2 linked regions of the Homo sapiens genome follow. The protein of the gene in region 2 purifies or fractionates together with the protein of the main gene of each other region. This does not show direct contact. Each region holds a gene or a part of one and is shown on either strand. Other genes may lie near its edges.

Region 1 (5,135 bases), on a different chromosome or scaffold from region 2:
GTATTTTGTTCTTTAAAAAGAACTTAAGAATTATAATCTTTGCTATTTATAGCATATCTTAATATTATGTAGAAAATATAAGTGTTATGCAAAGTAGTTTGTTTTGCTGATTTTTCCTCTTTAACCAACTTTTTTTGTTTTTTTCAGTTCATCTGCACCTAGAGCTTTTTCAAGAAAACTTAGGGAGGTGGCAAGGAGCACGTATAGCTGTACTTAGGCCTGGTTTCAAGGGCAAAAGCTAGAAGCCTTAGTAGGACCTAAAACTTTTTGTTTAATTGACAGTTTAAAAAAATTTTGATATTAGAGAAGTGGGAAGACAAAATTATAGAGTCATGGGTACAATATCTAAAAATGTGTGAATAAATTCTAAGAAAAAAAAAAAAGTAAGCTCTTAGCTCACAGCATTCCATGTTCTTAAAAACATGGCACCAGTCCTTGACAGAATCTCATTGAGTCTATGTGTCAAGCACTGAGTAGATGCTCAATAAACAGCTACTAAATAAAAGAATAAATTAAATATATTCTAGTGTCCTGTTACTGAACCACAGATATATCTATATTATATATAGTACTATATTCACATATACAATGTATTAGAAAGAGCAGTCTTTTGGGGGAAGTTATAAAATGATAAATGATCAATAGATAGTTTATTTATCACAGCAGTGATTATATTTTACATCAAAAATGACAAATTAAAAATGAAATATATCACTATCTATATAAGTATAACCTACTGATCTCCCATATTTTAATCCATTTTATGACCCAGAGACATTTTAATAGATACTACAAGATATATCATAACATTAATTATTTCTTAGAATTTTAAATATGGCTTATGTATCAGGCTTAACGAGTCAGCTAAAGTCTTTATCAGCTCCCTCAAAACTGATTCCAGGGTAAATTGGAAAGATTTGAAATCTGAATAGCATATAAAAGCATAATGTCTATGTTTTCCATAGTTAATTTATTTGCTGTTAGGCAGTTCTTCAGCCAACATCCTCTGTTTCTGACCAAAGTAGTGTATCTCAAGCAGGAATAGTAAGACAAGCAGGGTCATAGATCTTTATTGTTTCATCCCAAGAACAGTCAGCCACCTAGAAAACAAAAATGAAGTAAGAAGAAACGTATTTAGACATACAAAAATTCAAAATTGACAGCAAAAACTCAAGTCATTTAGAGTGTCGTAAATCATCCACTAGTAAACATATTTTTGAATAGGGAAAACATAGGGCTACGTTTTTGATAAAAGGTCCATATTCCCTTTTTAGGATATACCTCAGGGTATTCCAACTGATTCCCATTGATTGAGTATATTCCAATTGGTATATTTCAATTGACTGAGGTTTCCTATAAGAATGTCCCCCACCTTCACTTCACCCAACAGCTACATAATTCCCTACTATCTGATATAAATGTCGAAAAGATACGTTCCAGACTGTGAACAAGATGCTGTGCTCAATATTGTGGGACTGGAGAGGAAGATAAAGTAAAGCTCTTGCCTTCAAAAAATGGCTCATTCAAGACTGAGTGTGGAAGGTGCACTAACAGAGACTCTTAGGGGGACTATATGATTCCAGCTGGGACAGTGTCAGACAACTTCACAATGCCATGGCATTCCCACTGGACCTCTGTAGGAGGCAGACATAAAAGACAAGGACATTCACATCTACAGAGCCATAGGAAAACATGAAGGGAAGAAAGTCCAGGGTGTTCAGGAACTATGCATTAAAAACTTAGTGAATATAGCAATGTCTCCGGGTATAAAATTAATATATGAAAACCACTGTGTTTCTATATACTCGTTTTTTAATAGAAATGGATGAGGCAATTTTTAAAATTTATGTGGAAATGCCAGGACTTAGCCAAAAGAATCTTGAAATGAAACAAAGCTGCACTACTTAACACTAGCTGACTTCCAGACTCAGCACGAAACTACTGTAATCAAGACTGTGCAGGATTAGGATAAAGACAAGTAGATCAAAGGAAGAGAACAGAGTTCAGAAATAGGCCCCACACTTGGACAAATGGCTTTCAACAAAGGTACCAAAACAATTAAAGAGCAAAAGGAAAAAATAGTCTTTTCAATAAATGGTGGCAGAACAACTGAATATCCATAGGGAAAAAAGTGAATCCTGACCCCAACTTTGCACATAAAAATGAATTTGAGATGCACCACAGACCTAAATATAAAAGCAAACTGTATAACACTTTCAGAAAAAAAAAAAGGAAAATATATTCTCAATACAGAGGTAAGTAAAGATTTCTTAGGGATACAAAAAGTAATAATCAAAAATTTGGTAAGTTACACTCAATCAAAAATAAAACTTTTGCTCATCAAAAGACACTGTTAAGAAAATGAACAGGCAAGACACAGTTATATAAAATATTCATAAAATATACACCTGACAACTTGTATCAAGAATACATAAAGAACCAATACAACTCAATAATAAAAGGCAATCTAATGAAAAATGATGGGCAAAAGTAAGCACATAAAAAAGTGCTCAACATCATTAGGGATTAGGGAAATGCAAATAAAAATGACAATGAGATACCACCATATATTCACATTATGGCTAAAATTAAAGATTGACAACACCAAATGTCAGCAGGGATGTGGAACAGCTGTGATCACATACATTGCTGGTAGGGAAGGTATATGGTACCACCATTTTGGAAAACAATTTGGCCGTTTCTTACCAAGTTAAACACATACCTATCTTTTGACCCAGTAATTCCACTCCCAGATATTTGTCCAAGAAAAATGAAAACATATGTTTGCAAAACAATGTAGACACGAATGTTCATAGCAACTTCATTCACGATAGCAAAAAATCGAAAACAAGGCTGGGCAAAGTGGTTCATACCTGTAATCCCAGCATTTTAGGAGGCTGAGGCAGATGGATCACCTCAGGTCAGGAGTTTGAGACCAGCCTGGGCACCATGGTGAAACCCCACCTCTACCTAAAATACATAAAATGAGCCAGGTGTGGTGGTGTGCACCTGTAATCCCAGCTACTAGGGAGGCTGAGGTGGGAGAATCGCTTCAACCTGGGAGGCAGAGGTTGCAGTGAGCCGAGATCATGCCACTGCACTCCAGCCTAGGCAACAGAGTGAGACTCTGTCTAAAAAAAAAGGAAAACAACCAAAATACCCACTAACAAAAGAATCGGTAACAAATTGTAGTAAATTCATACAACAGCATGTGCTCAGCAAAACAAAGGGAGGAATTGCTAACAGGCTCAGTACCACGGGTGAAGCTCACAGGTAAGAGGCCAGAAACAAGTGAGGACATACAGAAGAGTTCCTTATAGAATTCTAAGACAGGCAAAACTCATCTAAGGTAAACAAACAAACAAACAAAAAGTCAGAACAATGTTACTCTTCTCACCTGGAGGGAAGGGTGGGGATAGGGGAGATTGGAAAGGGGTAAAAAGGAAACTGGGGGCTTTCCCAGTTTCCAATAACTGGGATGATGTGAATTTCACAGACGTATCTATTTGTCAAAAATGTATATCTAAGATTTGTAAATTTCAATATATGTGAATTATACCTAAAAATAGTAAAAATAATGTTAGCGATAACTAAACGATGTGTGAGAGTACAGGAATAAATAAAATAAGAATGTTGATAGTTGTTCAAGCTAAGTAATGAAGTTCGTTATCTGATTCTGTTACTTTGTATGTTTTCAAAATTTTCCACAATTTAAAAAAAAGAAGAAAAGAAACAAGGTAGGCAGTAAAATGAAAGATGAAGTAGCAAGAGAGTGCTTTTGACCAAAAGTATTTGCACTCCATTTCCCAGCCTTTCATGCTTATTACAAAGGCTGAAAATTACACAAGAGAAACCTCGTTTTGACTAATGTAATTTCTTGGCTATCACTAATTTTGAATAGTGATAGCCAATCATTCACTACCAATATTCTGAGATCAGAATCCAAGCTACAGAGAGCATTATAGACTTTTTAGTCAAACTTTTAAATTTAAAAACCTCACTCTTCAAGATCTGGTTGTTCCCATTTCATTTCTCATTGCACCGGGCTCACACCTCAAATCCAAGCATGCTGCTTATGCCTCTTCGCTCTTGTTCCTTTACTGATCGCTTCCCTTTAATAACTCCTCTTCTCCCTCCCTTTCTGTCTGCTCCTCTGTCCCCTTTGCCTTGCTCTGCCAGAGATGTCTCTTTTTTAAAAAATCAGTTTAGGTATCATCTCCTCTATGAAGTCATTCATTGTACCCATAATACTTGATTGTACTTATTTTCCCAACTGAAGACAAAGAGTTGTCTTCAGCTCTTTGAGGGCATGGACCATGTCTTATTAGAACATAACTCAATGAATATTGGCTCAACAAATTAATTTCATAGATTACAATTTCAGAGGTTAACTCTGTCCTCATGTTCACAATAGAGTAGCAGAGCTACAGCCAGAACCTAAACCTGTTGAATGTATCCACTAAAACAGTGCCTCATAGAAAAGGCAAACTGAAAACCATTATTTGCCTAATCTTGCAGTTTTCAGTTTTTATACCATAGGACACAAAGATCATTATGTTAAATTACCCCTGTCTCATCTATGCCTATTTTTTTCAAGTGCTGGGCCTTCCCACATGTTAAGCATCCGCTACTGGAGAGAAGAGAATCAGAGAAATAAGACTTAGGTTTCTAGTGCAAGGTATCTATAAATTATGTTTCTGAAACCTTATTCGGCACTCTCCAATCCAGCTTCTTATTTATTCAGGACTTATAATAACTACCAAATGTCAAGGCCACTGATTCAGCAAATGTTCATAAATCTATACTTAATTGGATTAAGATAGATCTAAAACTGCAATGATATAGAATTATGAATAGATTAATTCAAATTGATGAAAATAGTATTCCTCTATTTGTTAATTAAGCCCTATCTGGTTCTACAAATTTAAGCAAGCTAACAATAAAGAAAATAATAATAAGGTAAGAAAAAAGCACTTTACTAACTAACAAAGAGGCTCTAGATTCTCCAAGGTTGCTATGTAGGAACTTCCTGGTAAGGAAAAACTATTGTGCCATGTGGTCCCCAGGGGACCTCTTATTAATTATCACTGCCACTGCAATGGCTTCTGGTAGCACTGCAAGATTTTGTTGAGTAG
Region 2 (7,292 bases):
CTGCAGTGAAGAAAGGAGCCCAGGCCACCAAGGAGATTCCAGCGGCTGCCCATACTGTTTGTGCCAGGCAGTGCAGGTAAGGAAGTGCTGGAATCCAGCCCCAGAATAGGCCCCCATTCTAAACTAAGGCTCATATCCTACAGGCACCATCTTCTATGCAGACCGTGAGATCTAGGGACTCAGACCCTTGGAAAAGTACTAACAACAGGATGTCTTCCAGACCATGACCTAATTGCTTGTTCTGGAAGTCCTGGCTTCTCTCCATCTCCCCCATCTCTCTTCCTCTCCGCCAGGTAACATCCTTTAGCGCTTACACTGAGTGCACATCGAGGAAGCTTGTAACCTAGCAACTGCCACTTAAGATTCCCTGAGTCATCTGTAGTTTCCATTGCCTGGGTTGAGTGCACCAAGATGGGGCCTTAAGGAGTGCTAATCGGAGGGAGAGTGTCCAGTGACTCCTTGGTCCCTCCCTACCCTATTCTAGTGTGTAACCATTTTCCTGGTCAGAAAGTTCTTCCTCATGTCAAATCTAAATCCTTCTTGCTCTAAAATCTTGCGTAACATTAAGCCGGTGTTTCTCTTTTGCCTTAAAAAGCATTTGAGTTTTTACGCTGGATGTGGTGGCTTGTGCCTGTCATCCCAGCACTTTGGGAGGCCGAGGCAGGTGATTACATGAGTCCAGGAGTTCGAGACTAGCCTCAAAAACATAGTGAGACCCTGTCTCTGCAAAAAATAAACAAAAATTATCTGAGCTTCGTGGCACATAATCCTAGCTACTAGGGAGGCTGAGGTGGGAGGATCACTTGAGCCCAGGGGGTAGAGGCTTCAGTGAAACAAGATCGTGCCACTGCACTCCAGCCCAGGTGACACAGCAAGACCCTGTCTCTCTAAAAAAAAAGTGTTTCATTTTTCCCCTTCATTACAAGGTAGGAGTGGGAGGTTGGGGAATTAAGGGAGGGAAAAGTCATAAAAGCCTCTAAAGATTACATCTTTGGTGCTGTGGAGTCTTTATTATAGATATTGGTGCATCAATCAAACTTGAGGATGCTCAGCCCCAGAAAAAAGTCACTCAGTACGTTTTGGGTTTTGTTTCTTTTTAAAAAGATGGGGTCTTGCTATATTGCCCAAGCTGGATTTGAACTCCTGAGGTCAAGTCATCTTCTTGCCTCAGCCTCCTGAGTAGCAGGGATTACAGGCATGCACCACCTTGACAGGCTCAGTAAGTCTTGGATTTGTTAAGGTCTAATTTACATACAATGAAATGCACAGTTTTACTCAGTCTCTATTGTCTGGTAGGCATTCAGCAGGATCCTGCCTTCACTAAACTGCGGTACCTTAGGGGGAAGTTGGGGGTGTTGTGGGGAACAGTTTCTTCCCAATAAACCAAGCAGATTCTCAGTGTGGCAGGCCATGGATGGAGTAACTGTGGGAAGGGTTTCAACGTCTGCTGGAATTCCAAGTGTAGGGAACATTTCAGGGGGATAGGAGGGAAGAGGAGTTGTTTAGTGATTAGCTGCTCCTTATCCCTCCCCAGAAATACTCTTTACCGGAGTGCCCTCTGCAGGGTACCACGCTGGCTGGAGGCACACACCAGGAACTCCCCGAGGCCAGGATCACCTTCTTTATGCAGTTTTCTTTCTGCAGCACCCCACAGACCATGTGGTCAGCATCAGACAGGCTGCATCTGAATCCTGGTGCAGCCACCTCCTAGCTGTGTGATTATGCACCAGTCACTTATGTCCTTGAATCTGAGTGTCCTCATCTGTGAAAAAGGGAATAAGCAAATCTACTTTCTAGAGTTGTAGGAGGAAGGAGATGCCAGGCATAGTTCCTGGGCACGTGGTAAGTACCTCATAAAGACTAGTTTCTTTCTTCCCCTTGTGATGGCAAGTTTCTGTACCTCTGACTTTCAGGCTAGTGTGCCCCCCAAGAGCAGGTGCCAGTTTCACAAGATAGGCAGCCTTACCAGGGCCCATACCCTCCTGTAGCCAATCACTTCTGGGCCTGTGTCTTAGACAGGATATCTTTTCTCCTAGCTAGCTGAAATCTCATCTGCTGCAACCTAAATTGCATTCTAATCTGGAGAACAGCTGTGCCCTTCCTTTAGCTAATCACCTTCTCATTCCTAACCAGAAGCATGGTCCTTATTCAGGGAGTGGGGAGTGAGGCTGACTCATCCAATTAGGACTGAGGCTGCCAGCAGACCAAGGAAAGGGTAGTTCCTCCCCCAGCATAGAGAAGCCTCATTAGGGCCTCCTCCCCACCAGTCCCAACATCAGCCCAGAGGAAGGATTTAGAGCTCACGTGGACTTGATGGGAGATGGTATGACACAGTTGCCAGCAGTCAGAACCAGGATCTGTATGTGATCATGTGGCACTGCTGCCTTGCAGGTGGAGGGCTGGAGTCCCGCAGAATGGCCTCAGTTATTCAGGTTCCCTTCCTGACCACGCAGCCTTGATTGGACAGTTGAATCAGCCACATTCCTTCAGCTATCCTCCCTGCTCCCTCCCACTCCAGTGCATAGCTGGTGCCTGGAACCTAGAGGGCCTTAGTGGGTATCCATTAACGAATGCATCTGTTCATCTGTAAGCAACTTCCTGCCTACTTAGGTAAAACTGGGACATTGGAAAGTGGACCCCAGATATGGGATGATGGGTAAAGGGAGGGAGTCATCTTCGTTTTCAGACTCAGGAGTTGCACAATGTAGAGAAGGAAGGGTTGGGAAGCCACACGCTCCTCTGCTGTTTAGTGCGTGCGGGAAGGTATGCTTCTCAAAGACCTCAGCTACTTCCCTGTGCTTACTGAGGAAATCGTAAGAGGAAATGGGGCTTACAATAAAGCCTGAGGATTTGAGTTATAAACAAGGAAGAATTTCCTGACCAGCAATGTCAGAAACCTGAAACACCAGCATGAGGTGAGGTGAGAGGCCACGGAGCTGCCTCCTGTATTGCCGCCCGGGCCATACTAGAAAAACACAGGACAGTCAGAAGACCTCTGCTACGTCTTGTTACGATGAAGGCTATGACCTCCAGCCTACGTTTTGTTGTAACCGGGCTGTGCAACTATGGGCAAGTCATATCCATTCTGGTGCCTGTCAAATTAGAAGGAAGGAAGGTGAAGAAGAGAGCAGCTGGGGTCCCTCCCAGCTGGAGTATTCTGTACTCTTGGGGTGCTATACAGGCGGGGAGCCCTAGAGAAAGAAGCATTTAGCCATAGTGACAAAGCAGCAGATTCTAGAACGAACACCCTCACATTCTGCCAGGTGATACGATCGCAGAGGTCTGGCCCCACCAGCTCTCACAAGCGCTGCCAGCTACCCCAGGTCCAGTCACCAGTGAAGACTTTATCAGGGCTTCCCCTGGCTACCCTCTCTTGCTACCACCACCCTCCTTTCTCTCCAATCAGCCCAGGACAAGGGGGTGCCTTGTGACAGCTGCAGCTGTGGCGAATGGGCTGGCTCCCTATAGACCTTGGGCACCCACCTGCTTCCTGTTGGGTTCTGACCTTTCTGGGGTGCCTGCTGCCAGGAGAGTATGCAAGGGTGGCAGAGGATGCAAGAGCTCAGGTCATCCCGACATGGCTCTTTCTCTAAAAGTGAAAACGTGCCCATTTGTCCCAGGTCACCAGGCTGGGGCCCTTAGGGGGCCTAATCTTCACCCCTTCTCAAGTAGAGGACAGCAGAGCCTTTATGAGGGCAGCTCTGCAGAGGAGAAAAGGCTATAGGCTGGGGAAGGCTGCAGCAGACCACTCAGACACGGCTCTTTAAATGCCCATTAGTAAGTTAATATTGCCCCTTCCAAAGTCAGCAGCATCCTCCATTCTTCTTAATTAAAAAGAGCTCCACGTCCTGGCAGAGCTGAGAGACGGCTCTGAATGATTTACACACCAGCCCTGCTGCTTCCAGCTGGGAAATCAGCAAGGAAGATTGATTGGCAGATGGGCCAGCCTGCCTATCATGATGGCGTGCGTGCCTGTGTGTGCATGTGTGTGTGTGCATGCATGTGTGTGCGCGCACGCATGTGTGTGTGCATGTGTGTGTGTGTGCTGAGGCACTGGGAGCTGGCTCTCCTTCTGGCAGGCTCTAAATGAGCAGGGCCACAGACCCACAGTCCAGCCCCATGGGGCTCTGCAGGCCTAGAGGTAGAGGGCCTGCTAGAAACAGAAGGCTAAACAAAAGGCTGGCCTGCTCACCCTCACCGGAGTCCCTCTTCCTAGGAAAACTGCCTTATTTGGAAGACAAAAGCTCATTTGTTGTCTCATCCCCACCCAGGAGAGAAGGGTCCACTCCCCGAAGATTCCTCTTGTTTCCACATAGAGATTCCTCACCTGGTACATAGCATATATTGGGCTTTTATTTGATCATCACTGCTCACTTTAAGAGCAGGCTTTCGATCTGTGAGCCCGCGGAGTATACACCATGAGCAAAGCTCACCCTCCCGAGCTGAAAAAATTTATGGACAAGAAGTTATCATTGAAATTAAATGGTGGCAGACATGTCCAAGGAATATTGCGGGGATTTGATCCCTTTATGAACCTTGTGATAGATGAATGTGTGGAAATGGCGACTAGTGGACAACAGAACAATATTGGAATGGTGGTAATATGAGGAAATAGTATCATCATGTTAGAAGCCTTGGAATGAGTATAAATAATGGCTGGTCAGCAGAGAAACCCATGCTCTCTCTCCATAGGTCCTGTTTTACTATGATGTAAAAATTAGGTCATGTACATTTTCATATTAGACTTTTTGTTAAATAAACTTCTGTAATAGTCAAAAAAAAAAAAAAAAAAAAGAGGAGGCTTTCTTGGCTGGGCGTAGTGGCTCATGCCTGTAATCCTATCACTTTGGGAGGCTGAGGCGGGCGGATCACCTGAGGTCGGGAGTTTGAGACCAGCCTGATCAACATGGAGAAACCCCGTCTCTACTAAAAATACAAAAATTAGCCAGGGATGGTGGCGCATGCCTGTAATCCCAGCTACTTGGGAGGCTGAGGCAGGAGAATCACTTGAACCTGGGAGGTGGAGGTTGCGGTGAGCTGAGATGGTGCCATTGCACTCCAGCCTGGGCAACAAGGGCGAAACTCCGTCTCAAAAAAAAAAAAAGGAGGTTTTCTCATGGCCTGCCTCTCCTTCCTTGCCTCCCTCCTAACTCCAAATTTTGTCTGACTCTGACATCCAGGGGGATCCAAGGCTGTGGGCCCTTTATGGGGCTGGGAAGAGGATGATGAGGTTCACAGTTTAGGCTGTTTAGGCTGGCATGACACTCAGCCCGGGCCCTCCAGAGAGCCGGGAAGTGACAGCAGTCACCCTGAAAGGTCCCAGGCCTCTTTGCTTCTCCCAGCAGGCCTTGAGGCAGCCTTGTTGTCCATCCCATGCCTCTACTCACTTCTAAGAGCCCACCAGCCTCCCTGGGTGCCAGAGAGGGAGGTCCCGCTCACTCTCCAGATGGAAGGAGGTGCCAGGTCACTGGGGCAGGACCTGTACAGAGGTAGGGAGTGGCTTTTGCTCTCTCCTCACCTCTCCCCTTCTCCTCTGGCACTTTACATTACACACACACACACACATACACACACCCCTTGTTCCCAGAGAAAGGACCAGACAGAGGCACACTGGAGAGGAGGGGGTGGGGACTGGAGCCCAGGCATCATCCAGTGCTTTGCTTTCACCCCCGCTCCCTAGGGAGACGGCAATCTGCTGCAGCAGCAAGGTTGCCATCTGGCGTGCTGACCTGTGCTCTCTGTGCTGGAGACGGGAGAGGGCGGGGACGCGTGATGAGCTGGCTGCGAGTGTGTTGTGTATATGTGTGTCTAAGAAGCCATGAGAGTCTGGAAAGGTGAGAACCAGGCCAAGCTTTGGGTGAATCAAAGGATCTGCCTGTCCTCATCACTCGGCACTCCTGGGGCAGGTGGGTGTGTACCTGAGGATCTCTAAGGAGCCCCAGGAAGCCTGCATTTCTCTCCCAGTGAAGGAGGGAGTGGCAGGGCCTTGGCCCTTGAGCATCCTCCTGTAGCCTGTCGCCAGGAGAATGTGGCTGCCTGCTTAGCACCCAGGAGCTGCCAGTCCATCCCTGCACATCACTAGGCAAGAAACAGAGGGACAATTTTATTCACACCCAGACCTAACAGCTGCCCCCCACGAGGAACCACCACTAGGGATCCAGTGTGTCCTTTGTTCCTCTCTAGTCCTGGCCCAGAAAGGACTATTTTCTTCCTTGGATGCCATCTCCCTGCTTTGGTCCCAGTCTTGGGAATTATGTTCTGAGAGATTCCTTGATAAAAATCCTCCCTAAATCACAGGTTGTACCTCAGTGCAGGGGTCAGCAAGCTATGCCTGAGGGCCAACCCTGGCCTGCTGCCTGTTTCTGTATGGCCTGAAATCTAAGAACAATTTTTACATTTTTAAATGATTGGGGAAAAAAAATCAAAAGAAAAATATTTTGGGATACATGAAAGTGATATGAAATTCACATTTCAGCATCTATAAATAAAGTTATATTGGAACACAGCCACACTCACTCATTTACGTGTTGTCTATGGCGGCTTTCCCACTACAACAGCAGAATGGAGTAGTTGCAACAGAGAGCGCATGGCCCGCAAAGCATAAAATGTTTACTATCTGGCCCTTTACAGAAAATGCTTGTGCCCTCCCCTGCACCTTAGGCTGTTTTAAGGGAACAAGGGGAATGCCACCTTATTCTTTTTATTTTTTGTTTTCTTGTTTGTGTGATACAAGGTCTCACTCTGTCACCCAGGCTGGAGTGCAGTGGCACCATCGTGGCTCACTGCAGCCTCCCGGGCCCAATCAATCCTCCCGCCTCAGTCTCCTGAGTAGCTGGGACTATAGACACGCACCACTCCCAGCTTGCCACCTTATTCTTGACAACGTGCTTCACACCACCGTGGCAATGTTAAGTTGACACGGCAATATCTAGTGGCAATAAAAGGAAACAAACATTTTGAGGGCCCTTGTTGTATACCAGGGACATTTACTCTGTTTATCACATAATCTCTACAACAACCTTGAGAGAAACAAGCACTAAGAGGTCTATTTACATAAGGAAGGAATGGGAGAGATTAGGAAACTCACCAAAGCTATTAGAGTTAGGCAGAACAGGATGCTGGATTCAAACTCAGATCTGCCTAACCCCACAGCCCATATCCTCTTCAGGCCACCATGATTCTAAGATGACCACCAGCAGCCCAGCGAGGACCCACTCAAATGGCTGCTGGTTTGGGCTACCCCCATGAACAGGCAGGGCAATTGGGACTTAGGCTTTAGGGATCCAGGCCCC

What was found.
Region 1: the proteins of KLHDC8A (region 2) and PEX7 purify together in Homo sapiens (affinity purification with mass spectrometry; 2 studies listed by BioGRID and IntAct, with this or other methods). This does not show direct contact.

What each region holds. Positions count from the first base shown.
Region 1 is NC_000006.12:136,909,423-136,914,557, reverse strand, and holds the end of PEX7 (peroxisomal biogenesis factor 7), read right to left. Parts: intron 1,101-5,135; coding exon 1,032-1,100; 3' UTR 624-1,031; downstream 1-623. UniProt on the Homo sapiens protein: Receptor required for the peroxisomal import of proteins containing a C-terminal PTS2-type peroxisomal targeting signal. Specifically binds to cargo proteins containing a PTS2 peroxisomal targeting signal in the cytosol.
Region 2 is NC_000001.11:205,346,829-205,354,120, forward strand, and holds part of KLHDC8A (kelch domain-containing protein 8A), read right to left. Parts: intron 1,763-7,292; exon of another isoform or gene 1,548-1,762; intron 1-1,547.